Homo sapiens: one gene and its partners. The protein of the gene in region 1 purifies or fractionates together with the protein of each later gene. This does not show direct contact. Each region holds a gene or a part of one and is shown on either strand. Other genes may lie near its edges.

What was found.
Region 2: the proteins of KATNIP (region 1) and PTPRU purify together in Homo sapiens (tandem affinity purification; one large-scale study listed by IntAct). This does not show direct contact.
Region 3: the proteins of KATNIP (region 1) and BSN purify together in Homo sapiens (tandem affinity purification; one large-scale study listed by IntAct). This does not show direct contact.
Region 4: the proteins of KATNIP (region 1) and KRT74 purify together in Homo sapiens (tandem affinity purification; one large-scale study listed by IntAct). This does not show direct contact.

The regions. Positions count from the first base shown.
Region 1 is NC_000016.10:27,749,144-27,752,643, reverse strand, and holds part of KATNIP (katanin-interacting protein), read right to left. Parts: intron 3,061-3,500; coding exon 2,338-3,060; intron 926-2,337; coding exon 720-925; intron 1-719. UniProt on the Homo sapiens protein: May influence the stability of microtubules (MT), possibly through interaction with the MT-severing katanin complex.
Region 2 is NC_000001.11:29,323,522-29,327,300, reverse strand, and holds the end of PTPRU (receptor-type tyrosine-protein phosphatase U isoform 1 precursor), read right to left. Parts: intron 3,671-3,779; coding exon 3,513-3,670; intron 2,111-3,512; coding exon 1,975-2,110; intron 1,703-1,974; coding exon 1,640-1,702; 3' UTR 501-1,639; downstream 1-500.
Region 3 is NC_000003.12:49,669,477-49,672,049, reverse strand, and holds the end of BSN (protein bassoon), read right to left. Parts: 3' UTR 501-2,573; downstream 1-500. UniProt on the Homo sapiens protein: Scaffold protein of the presynaptic cytomatrix at the active zone (CAZ) which is the place in the synapse where neurotransmitter is released.
Region 4 is NC_000012.12:52,571,044-52,575,153, forward strand, and holds the start of KRT74 (keratin, type II cytoskeletal 74), read right to left. Parts: upstream 2,801-4,110; 5' UTR 2,735-2,800; coding exon 2,264-2,734; intron 1,625-2,263; coding exon 1,410-1,624; intron 962-1,409; coding exon 901-961; intron 412-900; coding exon 316-411; intron 1-315. UniProt on the Homo sapiens protein: Has a role in hair formation. Specific component of keratin intermediate filaments in the inner root sheath (IRS) of the hair follicle.

The DNA of each region.
Region 1 (3,500 bases):
GGGAGTTTGAGCTGCAATGAGCTATGATCACGCTAGTGTACTCCAGCCTGGGCGACAGTGCCAGGCCCTATCTCTAAACAAAATAAAAAAATAATAAGTTGCTTACCAATTAAAAGCATAAACTGTGGAATCACGCATTCAAGTTCTACCCTTGTTTCTCTGTCACAATGTGCCCTTGGGCAAGTCACTTGACTTCTCTGAGCATCAGTTTCCGAAATGGCAATGTTAATAGTCTCTACTCAGAGGGTTGTCATGAGGGTGAAACAAGAACACTGTGTACCCTGCTTGGATCATGATATGTGTTCATGAAACCATGGCTGTGATGATCATTATTTTAACTGTAACTCTGCCTATGAAAAGCATTCCTAGTCCTTCCATCAAAAACAACAGTGAATGATCAAAACGCAACCCCAAGCAAAAACTCCCCCCAGACTGCCAACCTCTGAATTGCAGAGATGACACAGAGCTCATTTCTCCTGGCTTTGATTAGAATTTGAATACTTTCTTTACTTCGGTTAAAAAAAAATAAAAAAATAAAAATAATTAGAGAATGAAATATGACATAGAGGACAAAAAAACAAAGTAGAAAGATGGGAAATGTCAACACAGTGGCACCAGCAGCTTAAAGGATATCCATCTTAATTCTCCCTGCTCTACTCTGAGTTAGGGGAAGAAACCTATCTGGGGGTCCCCCCACAGCCCCCCAGCTCCAGTCCTACCCGTTCATCAGCCCCCAAGCCAGCCTGGGTGAAGGGCCGCTCATCCCCCTCGCCGTCGGCCGTGCTGGGCCTCCTCATTGCCTCTTCATCCTGCAGGCTGTCCAGGCTCCCCACATCCAGGTCAAACATCTCATCAGAATAGAATATGGCCTCGAGAATGTCATCATCGGTTGTGAATAAGATCGTGTCTCCAAAGTGCTCTGGGGCTAATGGGTTATCAAGATGACAGAAAGGTCAACTCACTTCACATCCCAGAGATTTGTAGATCAAGAGCCTAAACCCATCCACTTCTGTGCTGTACAACCCCACACCCTTAACTGGTATTGATTAGTGTGAGCCTTATTAGTCTTCACAGATTTGCAAATGGAATGCACGGACCATAAGCATCACATGGATCTAAGGAAGGGATCTAATTTCATGAGAATCACTGTGATATGTCATCAGGCAAGTGACATTTCTTTGGGGTGGGCAAGGCACTATGCAAGACGCTGTTGGTACCCCACCCAGATCTTGGTGGATCCTTTTCTCAGAGTGCCTTGCCTGGAAGGGTGTGGGAGTTACAGCTCCAACCCGGCAAGCCTTGGTTCCAATGACTGCCTGGTAGGTGGGGTTCTAACGCCCTGCTCCTTCACCTTCAGGCAGGAAAGACCTGAAATTTATGTTCCAGACCTCCCTCAAGATCTGGTTGTGGCTGGGCTTCCTGGAAACTATATCCTTGCTTCACTATGCCAGGTTTCTCCTAGGAGCACTCCCTCCATAAGTCACTTGCCAAAGAATGCCCCATCTCAGACTCAGGTTCTAGGGGCCGGACCAAGACAGGTGCTTTATGGGAGATGCTGAATGAGGTCAGGCCTAGCACACTCATGCTGTAAGAGGGGATGAGTGGACCGGGTCTGTGGCTGGGTGCAGGGGCTCATGCCTGTAATCCTAGCACTTTGGGAGGCCAAGGTGGGTGGATCACTTGAGCCCAGGAGTTCGAGACCAGCCTGGGTAACATGGTGAAACCTCGTCTCTACAAAAAATACAAAAATTAGCCAGGTGGGTTGGTGCACCTGTAGTCCCAGCTACTTAGGAGGCTGATGTGGGAGGATTGCTTGAGCCCAGGAGGTCGAAGCTGCAGTGAGCCGAAACCATGCCACTGTGCAGGGCAAGATCCTGTCTCCCCACCCAAAAAAAAAAAAAAAAAAAAAAAGGGCTGGGCGCGGTGGCTCACGCCTGTAATTCCAACACTTTGGGAGGCCGAGACGGGCAGATCATGAGGTCAGGAGATCGAGACCATCCTGGCTAACATGGTGAAACCCTGTCTCTACTAAAAAAAAAAAAAAAAAATACAAAAAATTAGCCGGGCGTGTTGGCGGGTGCCTGTAGTCCCAGCTACTCGTGAGGCTGAGGCAGGAGAATGGCGTGAACCCGGGAGGCGGATCTTGCAGTGAGCCAAGATCGCGCCACTGCACTCCAGCCTGGGGGACAGAGCAAGACTCCGTCTCAAAAAAAAAAAAAAAAAAGAAAGAGAAAGGACTGATCTGTTGTTGGCTAGCCAGCTGGTCTGTTTTTTCCCATAGACTCTCAGCAAGTCACAGATAGGGGCTCTGAGAAAATTCTTACAGACACGCCATACCTCCCGCCAGGGTTCCAGAGGCCTTGGCGATTTCTCCTTCAAAGATGCACTGGGTGTCTAACAGCATTGTGATGTCCTTCACGCCTCGGAAGGAATGTATCCGAGATTTATTGTAGTTCCAAATTCTGATCAGGGCAACGTGGCAAGGGTGCGTGAAGTCAATGGTGATGGAGTGGGATCTGCCCCGCGTGAAGGGGGCCAGCCAGACATGCATGTCATCCTGGGTCCTGTTCACCCCGTCGATGAGGTTGGTGACCACGCGGGGGTCTTTCCCATAGGCTGGTAAAATATTGATATCGGGAGGGTCTGCTTTTATGTTTGAAATCTGCACCGGTTCACCCTTGGAACTGAATATTTCTATTCCGTTGAGGCCGACATAGTGTCTGTCCCCCCAGGTAGACTTGATGTCAATGACCAAGCGCTGTCCATAAGGCAAGACGGGGATTTTAAAGTCACCCCCAGCGTCTGTCTCTCCAGAGTAGCCATCCTGCCCTCTCGACAGCCCTGGCTGCTCCCCCTTCTTGGAGGGGGGCAAGTCGCTGTGCCGGCTGCTCTTTTGCTGCAGGAGCTCATCCAGGATGTCCCCCGGGAGCTCCGTGTTGGAGATGCGTCCCCGGTGGGAGCGGTCGAAGGCACTGAGGGAGCTCCATGACTCGTGAAGTGTGTGCTCCTGCTCACTGCGCCACCTTGACCGTGACGGCGTCCTGGAAGACCAGGTGTCTTCTGGAAGAAAGGACACAAGAGGGGGGAAGCCCTGTGAGTGGCATGTGTGGAAGTGGGGACCATTAGAGACTGTCTCCTGTGGTGGCTCTCAGTGAGGCAGGGCCACCTCCAGGGGAGCCCTCTAGAAACCAGCGGGGTTGTTCCCGGCTGTCTCCTTAGCCAAGAGGCCTCTTGGCACTGGATGGCTGGGGCCAGGCATGTTACCATCCTGCACTGCATGGGGGCCCTGGCACAGAGCTTGGTCTCCTGTCCCACACAGCTTCTGACTGTCCTGTGGGCCATTCAGGTCGGTAAAATAATTGTCTATGATCACCCAATTCCAGAATCTGGTTGTTTTTGCAAAAACACAAAGCATTTTTTCATAGACTGAATTTTCTAAGAATGCAATCATCGTGTGAACCAAGGGAAGACTACTTGGCTGTGTTAGAAACTTTGCCAGG
Region 2 (3,779 bases), on another chromosome or scaffold:
AACACGCTTGGCACTACATAAGGCACTTAATCATTACCTCATCTGATCCAAACAGGACTGTCCCCACTTTACAGATGATAAAGTAGGCCCCAGAGAGGGCACTAACTTGCCCAGGGTCTCGCAGCTGCTGGGCCCATCTGCCTGACACCAAAGCCTGAGCCTCCCATGCTGCCCCAGAAAGAGCTGAACCTGATCCAGGGCCCCCAGTGGAGTGAGAGGCAGCTCTGTGGCCCTCAGGGATCTCGAGTTGATATACCCTACCTGAGGAACTGCTTCAGAGGCCTGGATGGGGACAGCAATGGCCAGGGTCCCTTGGAACCAACTCTGAAAGTGGAAGGACCCTGAGTGATGTCCTGGTCCACACTCCCACCATTTTACGAATGGAAAAACCAGGACCAGATCAGAACCCAGGCTTCTCCAGGGCCCTCCCACTGCACTGGAGGCTGGGGGCAGGTGAGCAGGCCCCGTCAGGCTGGTGAGACACACACAGGGCTGCTCTGTGGCATTCAGAGAGCACGTTTATTTACAAAGCGCTTTACAAACATCAGCTTATGCCTCCCCACAGCCCCCTGCGAGGTAGGTCAGTAGTCATATCTACAGTTTACAGATGGGGAAATTGAGGCACGGAATGGGGGTGTGGCCTGCCCCATTTTAAAGAGACCTTCCCACCCACCCAACCAAAAATAACAAAAGAAACAAAAAAGCACTGGTCCTACCTCTTCCTCTGAACTCCAGAGGGTATGACCAGCCCTGCTCTAACACTGCCCCTCCCCACAACGGGCAGCCTGACCAGGAGCCACAGGGGCCTCAACCCCAGGGGCTGTTGTTCAGCCTTGCAGATTGTCACTGGCCCAAGCTGAGCAGGACAGGCCAGTGAGGCCTGAAGATTAAAGGAAGAGGGGGGCGAGGTGACTTCATTCTGCAACAGTGGGTCAGGCAGGGAAGGAGCCCCCCATGGGGCACAGCAGTAATAGGCAGATCCTGGTTCAGGGAAGCTCAGAGCACATATCAGGGAAGCAAGTGGGGAGGGATAGTGAGCAAAATATCTCAGGGGCTGCAGGGGGCAGTGGGGAGGAGGGCGCTGCAGTTCCCCTGGGGAGGACAGTCAGTGTGCCCCACTGGCTATTCAGAATTGAGACCTGCTTCCCCAGGACCTTCAGGGGCTGGGCCAGATGGAATCCTAAATGCCAAGTCCCAGTACATCCTCTACCCACATGCAGAGGGGGCAGGCTGAGTGGGAACCTTGGCCTGGGATGCTCTCTGCAGGGCCTCACTCATCCCTGCCAAAAGCCAGGATGGTGCCAAGGGGCTTGGCCTGAGTCCCCCAGAGCCAGCCGTCCTGAGCCTTTGTCACTCTGCCAGGCAGCACCAGGCCTCTCAGCACAGGCCTGCAGGACCCTATGGAGGTGGGGCTGGGCTGCAGACTTGCTAAGCTCCTCCTTGGCCCACCACCCGCCCATGGGACAAGCGAAAGGCCCTGCCCACAGTGGAAGGGGGAGCAAGATAGCCCAGCATCCACTCCAGTGCTTGCCCCATGGGAGTGTGTTTGGGCAGAGCAGGAGGCACTGATCTTCCTCGCCAGTCCAGGATGGTGGGTCTGGCCCTGAGTGTGCAGTGGGTGCCCCAGGCCAGGGCCCCGCTATCTTGACTCCAGCCCCTCCAAGTACTCCAGGGCCACATCGTAGCAAAAGTGGTACTGATCCTGGGGAGAGGAAGAGAGGGAGGGAATCATGAGCCTGACCCCAACTCCAGTATTGTGGGGGGAGGGGAACGGGGAGTGAGAGGGCAAGCACGAGCCCGAGCCCAGGCCCGCCCTCGGGGAGAAGGGAGAAATGGGGGTAATGTTTTAGGACCACAGGGCTAGAACCAAGGCCCAGTGGTGGGGCCCAGATATGGGAGAGTGGGTGCTAAGGAACCTGGCCTGGCATGGACCAGGAAGGTGGAAGTGGCTGGGCACGGGACACAGCCCCTCACCATGGTCTCCACCATGTTGGGTTTGTAGTTCCGGAGGGTTTTGGCAGCAAAGAAAACGTCCACCAAGTTGTGGCAGCGGATCATCTCCAGGACCGTGGCGCAGGCGCAGAAGGTGCCGCTGCGTCCTCCCCCGTTTCTGAATGAGAGATGCAAAAGCTGAGGGGCGGGGCCTTGGAACCTGAAGGTAAGAAAAGGGCCAGGGAACCACGAGGGAGGGGCAGAGAGCCTAGAGGAGAGGGACGGAGCTAGGGAATCTAGAAGGGTGGGGCAGAGAGCCCAGAGGTGAGGGGCGGAGTTAGAGAACACAGAAAGGAGGGGCCCGAGAGCCTAGAGGAGAGGGGCGGAGCTAGGGAACCCAGAAGGAAGAGGCCAAAGAGCCCAGAGATGAGGGGCAGAGCTAGGAAACCCAGAAAGGAGGGGCCAAAGAGTCCAGAGGTGAGGGGCGGGGCTAGGAAACTAAGGAGGGCCAAAGAGCCCAAGGTGAGGGGCAGAACTAGGGAACTCAGAAGGGCGGGGCAGAGGACCCAGAGGTAAGGGGCGGGGCTAGGGAACCCAGAGGGAGGAGCAGGACCAGGTTAAGAAGGATCAGAGGCTAAGACATCTCAGAAGACATATTCTCAAGGCGAAACAGACTGCGGATTCTGAGAGAAAGGAGGCCAGACACACTCCAAGAGAAACACCCGGAGAGACAAAGACAGTGACAAAGAAGGGCGGAGGAGCAGCAAGCGCGTACCCAGAGAGCAAGGTGGAACAGGAATGCTGAGAAGACTGGTCACCACCTGGCATCGTGGGCACACAGGCACAAACGTACCCAAACCCCAAGTCAAACCCACAGCCTCCCACAGAGCTCCATCCCCTCCGTGCCTCTCCCTCCTTCCCTGTGACTCCACGTGTGGGGTGCCTCCTGGGGAATGGCAGACTGATGCGGCCCTCACTCCCCTTCTCAGGGGTCTTTCCCACCAGAACCAAAACCCCTGGGGGCCAGACCCGGACTGACTCAGCTCCGCACCAGCTTCCAGTAGGCCCAGCCTGCCACTCGAAAGGCTCAGTAAATGCTGAAAGCATGAAAAAGTGGGGAGCAAAGGAGTGACTGCACCCAGACATGAGTGAATACATGAACTTATGAATGGGGCATGCAGATGGATGGATGGATGGATGGGTGGATGGATGGATGGATGGAAAAAGTCACATGTGTGCATGCATGAACAAAGACTGGAATTCTATTGGCATAAAAGTGTGCCACAATCTCATGGGGTAAAAAATTCTGACCAAGGACTCTAATTAAATTGGCAAAGTCAGACATCACACAGAGGATACTGGGCAGTTGTTCAGGGCTGAGTCTATAGCCTGGAAACTCACTGGATTCCTCCAGGGCCAGCCTTGGCTGGTTGGGCAGCATCCTGGCCACAGCCATCTAAGAGCCCAGGGGTTTCGGTGCCAGCTTTGCAGTCCAGCCAAAGCTGGCACCCTTTCAGACTGGACCTCTGCCCCTGGCTCCCCAACCCCTCCACCCGCCCTCCCACAGGGCAGGTACTCACAGGCAGTGCACGATGGTGCGCCCATCCCCACTCTCGGCCTGCCACTTGTCCACCTCAGCCAGCAGGTGCAAGAAGGCCTTCTTGGAGTCAGGTGTGTCCCGGTATGCAGACCAGCGCAGGAACTGGAAGTGCCGCACCAGCAGGTGCCCCTCCTGCAACTGGGGACAGGGGCAGCCAGCCAGGGAGGACATGAGCACCAGGGTCCCAGGGGCCCCTGATGACACAGAGGGTCATTAAAAGCTGCCCCAGCCACCACCCAGGGTCCTT
Region 3 (2,573 bases), on another chromosome or scaffold:
AAAAAAAAAAAAAAAAAAAAAAAAGGTCTAGCAACTCTGGGTGACTTCGGTAAGGAGGTACTCCTGACCATCTGAGGAAGGCCTAAGGTCTGGCAGCCGGTGAGAGTTTGGGGGTTGGAAAATTCGGAGCAAGGCAGAGAGGTGTAGGGCTTGTTGGCAGCACCAGGGGGCAGCACTTGTTCACTGCCTCCCTGGAACCAGGTCCCAGAAAGCTGTGTATGCAGCCAACACACCTGAAGGCCATGGAGGTGCTGTCCCTCAACAGCCTGCGCACTGACTGCCTGCTCCAGGTCCAAGCTTGGGACCTCCCCTTGGGCACCTTTGTGGAGGGCCCATTGTCTTTGGATGGCTTGGTGTGGACTCAGCCCCGTGCTGTGCCAGCACTTCTGCAACTTTGTCCATCCTTTTCCCTTTAACCATGGACAGGATTGTCGCAAATTTGGGGATTTGCTCCTTCAGCTAAGCCTTCCCACTTGAGAAACCATCCCAGAAACAGTCTGTAGGTTGTTTATATCAAGTCCTTTTATTCTGATACCACAGAATTACCTTGTCACAATACAGGGGGAGGGACACTGAAGTACCACGAGTTCTCACAGAGCACAGAAGGACAGCACACAATTCACAAGGTCATGTGGAGGACTCGGGTCATTGCACTTACAACTGTAAACTTGTTTGTTTGACTTTGTACAGCACTCTTCCCCCCTCAAATAAAGAAGGAGAGAAGGAAAGAAAGGGAGAGAGGGAGGAGGAAGGGGAAAGCAAAAACAAGACATGAAAGCTAGAGGAAAAGGTATTGAGTGGCCACCACTCTCCAGGGTAGTGCACTTGGAGAGAAGGAGCTGATTTGACCCCAGAAACTGAATGAGGCAGAAACACACACACACACACACACGCACGCACGCACGCACATACACACATGATCATGTGCATACACATACAATATCTCACGACTGCCATGGCTCTCCAGTGCCACCCCAGTGCACATGGCAGCAGGGCTGCTGGCACCCAGGGAGACAGAGATGGCATCTCCGAGGAGTTTCAGTTGATTAGGCCTGTCCCTCTAACCCTGTTGGAGTCCATGATGACAAGTATTTACAGCATGGGGGTGGGTAAGAGGAGAGCAGACGGGACAACAGGGCAGGACCATGCTGTCCTGGCAAAGGACCTGCCTGGAAAACTCCCTACAGGCTCCAGAAGGCAAGGCATAGTTGCCACCACTGCTGTTCTTTCACTGTGGGCCCTCAGACCACATGCTCTGCCCAAGGATTGTAGGGGAGGGCTGTCACTGTGAAGTGAGTGCACTGGGCCCTGAAGTGAGCAGAGAGAGGAGGCAATGCCCTTGCTCATGATGCTGGGGAGAGGGGTATGGAGAAGGCCTGGGCTGCATGCTAGAGACTCCTTGCCCATTTGGAGATGTGTCTGTTGCTCTCTACTTTCCAAGGCACCAAGTGCTGGTCCCTCAGCTTCTGGCTGCATTGTCCCCAGAGTCACAACTGCATCCATGCAAGGGCCAGGAAGGACAGTCCATGGACCAGAGGCCTGCTCCAGCCACCTTCACAGAGGGGCGATGATGTATCCTGTGGGTACAGTGGGGGATGAGGAGTGGCAGATGTCAGAATTTCAAACTCAGAGGGCTTGGCCAGAAAGGAAATTTGCTGAAAAGTCAGTACTTTAGAGCCTGAGACTAGGCCTGCTGGAGGCTGACCTCCTAACATTTCCCTGCCTGTTCCCTACTTCTTGTCCCATCCCCTGGCCTGTAGTGGAAAGGACTATTGCCTTGGTCTCCAAGGCACATCCCCACACAGACCTGGTCCTGGGTGGCCAGAGGTGTTAGGTGATGGCTTCCCTCAGCCCTTGCTCAGATGGCTGCATTCAGCCCATACCTGATCTTTGGGATGAGGCAGGTATTCCATGGGTGGGGTGAGGCCAAGTCCCAGAAAGGCAAGGGTGTTAAGTCCAACACAAAGGTTGGCAGCTTCCTGTCCCATCCATAGCTACCAGAGGTGAGCGAGGAGCCCTCTCTGAAGGGGTGTGTAGATCTTATAGAAAAGCATGAGAAATGCGGACCCCTGAGAAATGCATGGTGCAAACCAGAGCACTCTGGACGAAGGTCAGGCCTTGAAGGGTCAGGCAGGTACTGCCTGCCGCACTCCTGGCTCAATGGTAAAAAAGCTGATGAGCAGCGGGACGCTTGGGCTTTGGAGAAGGGGGTGAGCAGGGAGCATAGGTCCTGGGGACAGATGCAGAGAGGGTCACACAGGACCTTCTGTAAGATTTGCTATTGAGAAACTTCACAAGAAACTTAGCTTGAAGCCACTGTTTATATGAACAGTTCCAGATGACCACTGTCAACTGTTCTCACCACAAGTGCCAAAGGCCCAGCTCTTCCTGAGCATCCATTGACCCCCTAGCTCCAGCCCAGATCTCCTGGCTCACAGTCCTTTGAGCCTCCTAGCCACAGAGGAGAGGCATGAAACAGGTGCAGTCAAGAGCTGGGGTCCCTCGGGCACAGCCTGGCTCTGCTCTTGCCTCTGCCTCTCTGGCTGTGGATGCCGCCCAGCTCTGCCCTTGCG
Region 4 (4,110 bases), on another chromosome or scaffold:
GGCACATGCAGACGGGTGAATAATGCATTTTCCACAATTTCACAGAATCCAAGGCTCTGTGCTTTGTAAGACCTCACTGGGTTATCTTTTCCTGCCCGTGGGCAAGTCCACTATTGTATCAAGATCAATTTCCTCCTGTATGTATGGCCTCCAAGGACCAGCATCCTGCACTTCCATGGTCTCCTGGTGCAGGGTTTTGTACCTTTCTACCAAAACATCTTTCATTTTGTTGATCCTAAATCTCTCCTTTTGGTATCTCCCTGGAAGAGTCGGGAAGGAGGCAGGGTGAGGGTGGGGGGACAGGAGTGTCCTTACTGCATCATACAGACACTTGAGGAACTTGATTTCTTTGTCCAGTGAGTCCACTTTGGCCTGAAGCTCCACCTTGACTGCGTAGGCTGCATCTGCATCCTGCCAAGAGGCCCCAGAGTCATTGGGGGATGCAACCCTCATCCCACAGCTGCCCTGCCCAACTCCTGCCTCAAAGCCACCTGATTTTCTATTTTCTACCCACAAAGGAAAGCTCACTCAATATCAATTTCTTCTCAGGCTGCCTGAAGCTTTGGGAATAGGGAAAGGAGGATGGGGCAGCTCTGTTATGCCTGGAGAAAACAAAGCCCAGAGAGGTAGTAGGTTTCCTCAGGTCACACAGCAAGGTTGAGCTGGACCCGAGTTTCACAGTTCCCAGACCAGAATTCTGTCTGTCTCTGTCCATTTCCTGAGTGTGTGTCTTTCCTCTCCAACTCACTGGAGGCCAGGACTATGACTCCACCCTCACCAGGCACCAGCCCCCTCACCAGGCACCAGCCCCCTCCCCAGCCTCCTGGGCTGAAGTCCTGAGCAGAGTTGTTAAGATGGGGGTGCGAGAGACCCTAATAAGGAGGCTCCTCCCTCTCTTACCTTCTTAAGCACCACAAACTCATTCTCTGCTGTCGTGCGCCGGTTAATCTCCACTTCATATCTGCCAGCAGGGAGAGTAGATGGCCTTAGCCCCCTTAGCCAAGGAACTTTCTCTTCCTGCTGGCCAGGCAAATGTTTGGGATACAGGGTCCCTGCAGGGTCTCTGGGGTGAGCAGTAAGAGGCTAGTGACAGGAGTAAGATATCCCTGAGTTGCTTCACTTGTCTCCTAGTTTTTGCATGTTAGGAAAACACCCAGGTGCCTATTGGGCTCCCGACACCAGCAACTGAACATTTCAGTGGGTCAAGGAGCACAGGAACCGCTTCCTATCAACTAGGCAGGAAGTTATCATCAAAGAGGATAGGCCCTTCCCCCTAGCCAGAGAAAGGGATGTGAGCTCCTGACCCTGGTGCATACTCCCCCATCTCCTAAAAAATAATGGCACAGAGATCAGGTGAGCCCAGAGGCACGGGAAACATGGTCTGTGACCCTCGGGTGGAGCCTGCTCACCTCTTCTTATAGTCCTCCACCAGATCCCTCATGCTTCTCAGCTCCGAGTCCAGCCTCACCCTGTCCCCAGACAGTGTCTCCAGCTGCTTCCGCAGGTTGCTGATGTAGCCCTCAAGGATGGGCTCCAGGTTCTTCTTGCAGTTGTTCAGGTCCAGCTGCTGCAGCAGCTCCCACTTGGTTTCTAGAACCTGGTTCTGCTGCTCTAGGAAGCGTACCTGGAACCCAAATCAACAGACACCTGGAACCACAATGGGTGCAGTCATGCCCCCTGGACACACACCATTGACTCCCCAGGTTTGCCATAGATTGTTGTAGTCATTTTTGCTCATGTCTTGACTCTCCACCCTTGCCATTCCACACAAACTAGATCCTTTACAAGTGCTCATTTCCTAGCCTTCTGGACAAGGCATCACTGAGAACTCACTCAAGGAGTTTCCACAGCTTTCTTCTATTGCTCGGCCCTGGTCCCAGGAGATGTCCTTCCTTATGTCTCAACTAAGTGTCTCTTCCTGTACCATGAGCCCTTCCCTCTGAACACTGCTGGATTCTATTAGCCTTTCATGTTCTTGGAAGATCCAGCTGTCCTCAAGAAACTCATCACTTTTTTGTCAAGGAAGGGCTGCTCTTTACCCAGCTTCCCATCCTTCCCTGCAAAATCGCCAAAGAAGCCGATATATTCATGTATTCCTTTGTCCTCCGTGGCTCACAGACCTACTCTCCTTCCCTAATGGTGAGGAAGCCCTTCCTGAGGCCCAGCTGCACCTTTCCAGCCACAGTGTGCAGTCCATTCCCAGGCAGCAGGAAAACTGCTCAGGCCTCAGGGTGCGGCCTCATCCTCCTCCTATGAGACCCACCTTGTCAATGAAGGAGGCGAACTTGTCGTTCAGCACCTTGATCTGTTCCCGCTCCTGGGCGCGCACCTTCTGGATCTCAGGGTCCAGCTCCACGTTGAGGGGGGCCAAGAGGCTCTTGTTGACAGTGACCTGGTGGATGCCCCCAGGTGGGCACACAGACAAACATGCAGGCCCCAGGGCCACACTGCCAAACATACTGCCAGCAAAGCCACTGGCCCGGCCCCCTCCATACCCAGAGCCAGGCCTGAAGCCGTAACCTCCAGCCCGAACGCCGCCACCAGCCACATTGAAAGAAATACGCCGATTCCCTCCAAGGCTATAGAGGCTCCGACTGCCAAAGCCAGCGCCAGCCCCTCTGCCAGCTGCACAGTAAGAAGCCAGGCTACCCACAGCCTTCCTTGGCACCACTGCCGAATGCACACTGAAGTTGCCCTTGTCACCACTGGACTTGATGTTCAGTTGCCGACTCATGGTGGGAAAGGTTGAGTTGACAGAGCTGGAGAAAAGCAGTCTCCAAGGGGTAGAGAACACACTGATGGGGCACCCAGAGTGCTGCCTCCTTTTATCCCTGTTGAGCCCAGGACACCGGAAAAGGGCGTCTCTCCACTATCTCCTTTCCCCTGCTGATGGGCCAGGGGCCATGGGCAATTTGTAGAACAGAGATCTCCAAGCCCTTTGCAGCAACAAAGCTCTTCTGATAGCAAGTGGAATATGCTGCCCTTGCAGAGTGGAGTGGTCTAATTTGGAGTTTATCTGTGCTCCCTAATTAAGGACCTGAAGAGTTATCCCCTGAAGAGATCTCCTAGCTTTATTTTTCCAGTGCTACCTCCTTCTTGCTTAACCATCAGCAAGGAGCAGGGGAAATGCCTGGCTTTCCCCAGAGTAGACTCACCTGAAAAACCCCAGGTTTCTTCCCAAAAGAAACCATCTCTCTATTATAGGGTCTTGTGTGGAAGCTGGAATTTTTACCTCAGGGAAAAGAAGACATGGAAAGATGATTCTTCTTGGAAAGATGTCCTCAAAGATCTGGATCTGGGTAAGAAGCTCCAGGGTCCGTCCTTGGGCCATGCTAAGGACCACAGCTGTCTAGCAGTGAAGTGGACCCCAGGAAGGAAGAGGAATGACTCTGCAGCATCTGCATGCCCCCCTAGCAGGGATATTGTCTAGGGCCTTCTGTGTTGGGCAGGGCCTGGGTGGTGGTGACCTTGACATTGCCTTACAACCATGAGAACCTTTCCAGTCAGCTGCATTTCCTCCAGTTGGATTTTCTCTCCTGGATAAGATTATTTGTCCTACTCTAGGAAGTCAGGCAGGAGCTGGGATATTAGCCCCTGCACTCCCTGGGGAAACACCCTATGGCTGAAGTCACCAAGGAACAGGACCCCCTGAGTTTCACTCCCAGGTTCAGGGTGGGCTGTTCTGCCAGTTTCCTGGCAACTTCAGGGAGCACTCAATTTTCAAACAGGAAGTATCACTGCTTTATAGCTCAGGTAGTGTGGGTACAGTGCAATGTTAAAAAATTATTTCAGGGCTGGGCATGGTGGCTCACACCTGTAATCCCAGCACTTTGGGAGGCCAAGGAGGGCAGATTGCCTGAGGTCAGGAGTTTGAGTCCAGCCTGGCTAACATGGTGAAACCCCGCCTCTACTAAAAATACAAAAATCAGCCGAGCGCAGTGGTGCATGCCTGTAGTCGCAGCTACTCAAAAGACTGAAGTAGAAGAATCACTTGAACCTGGGAGGCAGAGGTTGCAGTGAGCCTAGATTGTGCCACTGCACTCCAGCCTGGGCAACAGAGCAAGACTCTGTCTCCAAAAAACAAAAAAAATTATTTCAAAGCTAGGTATC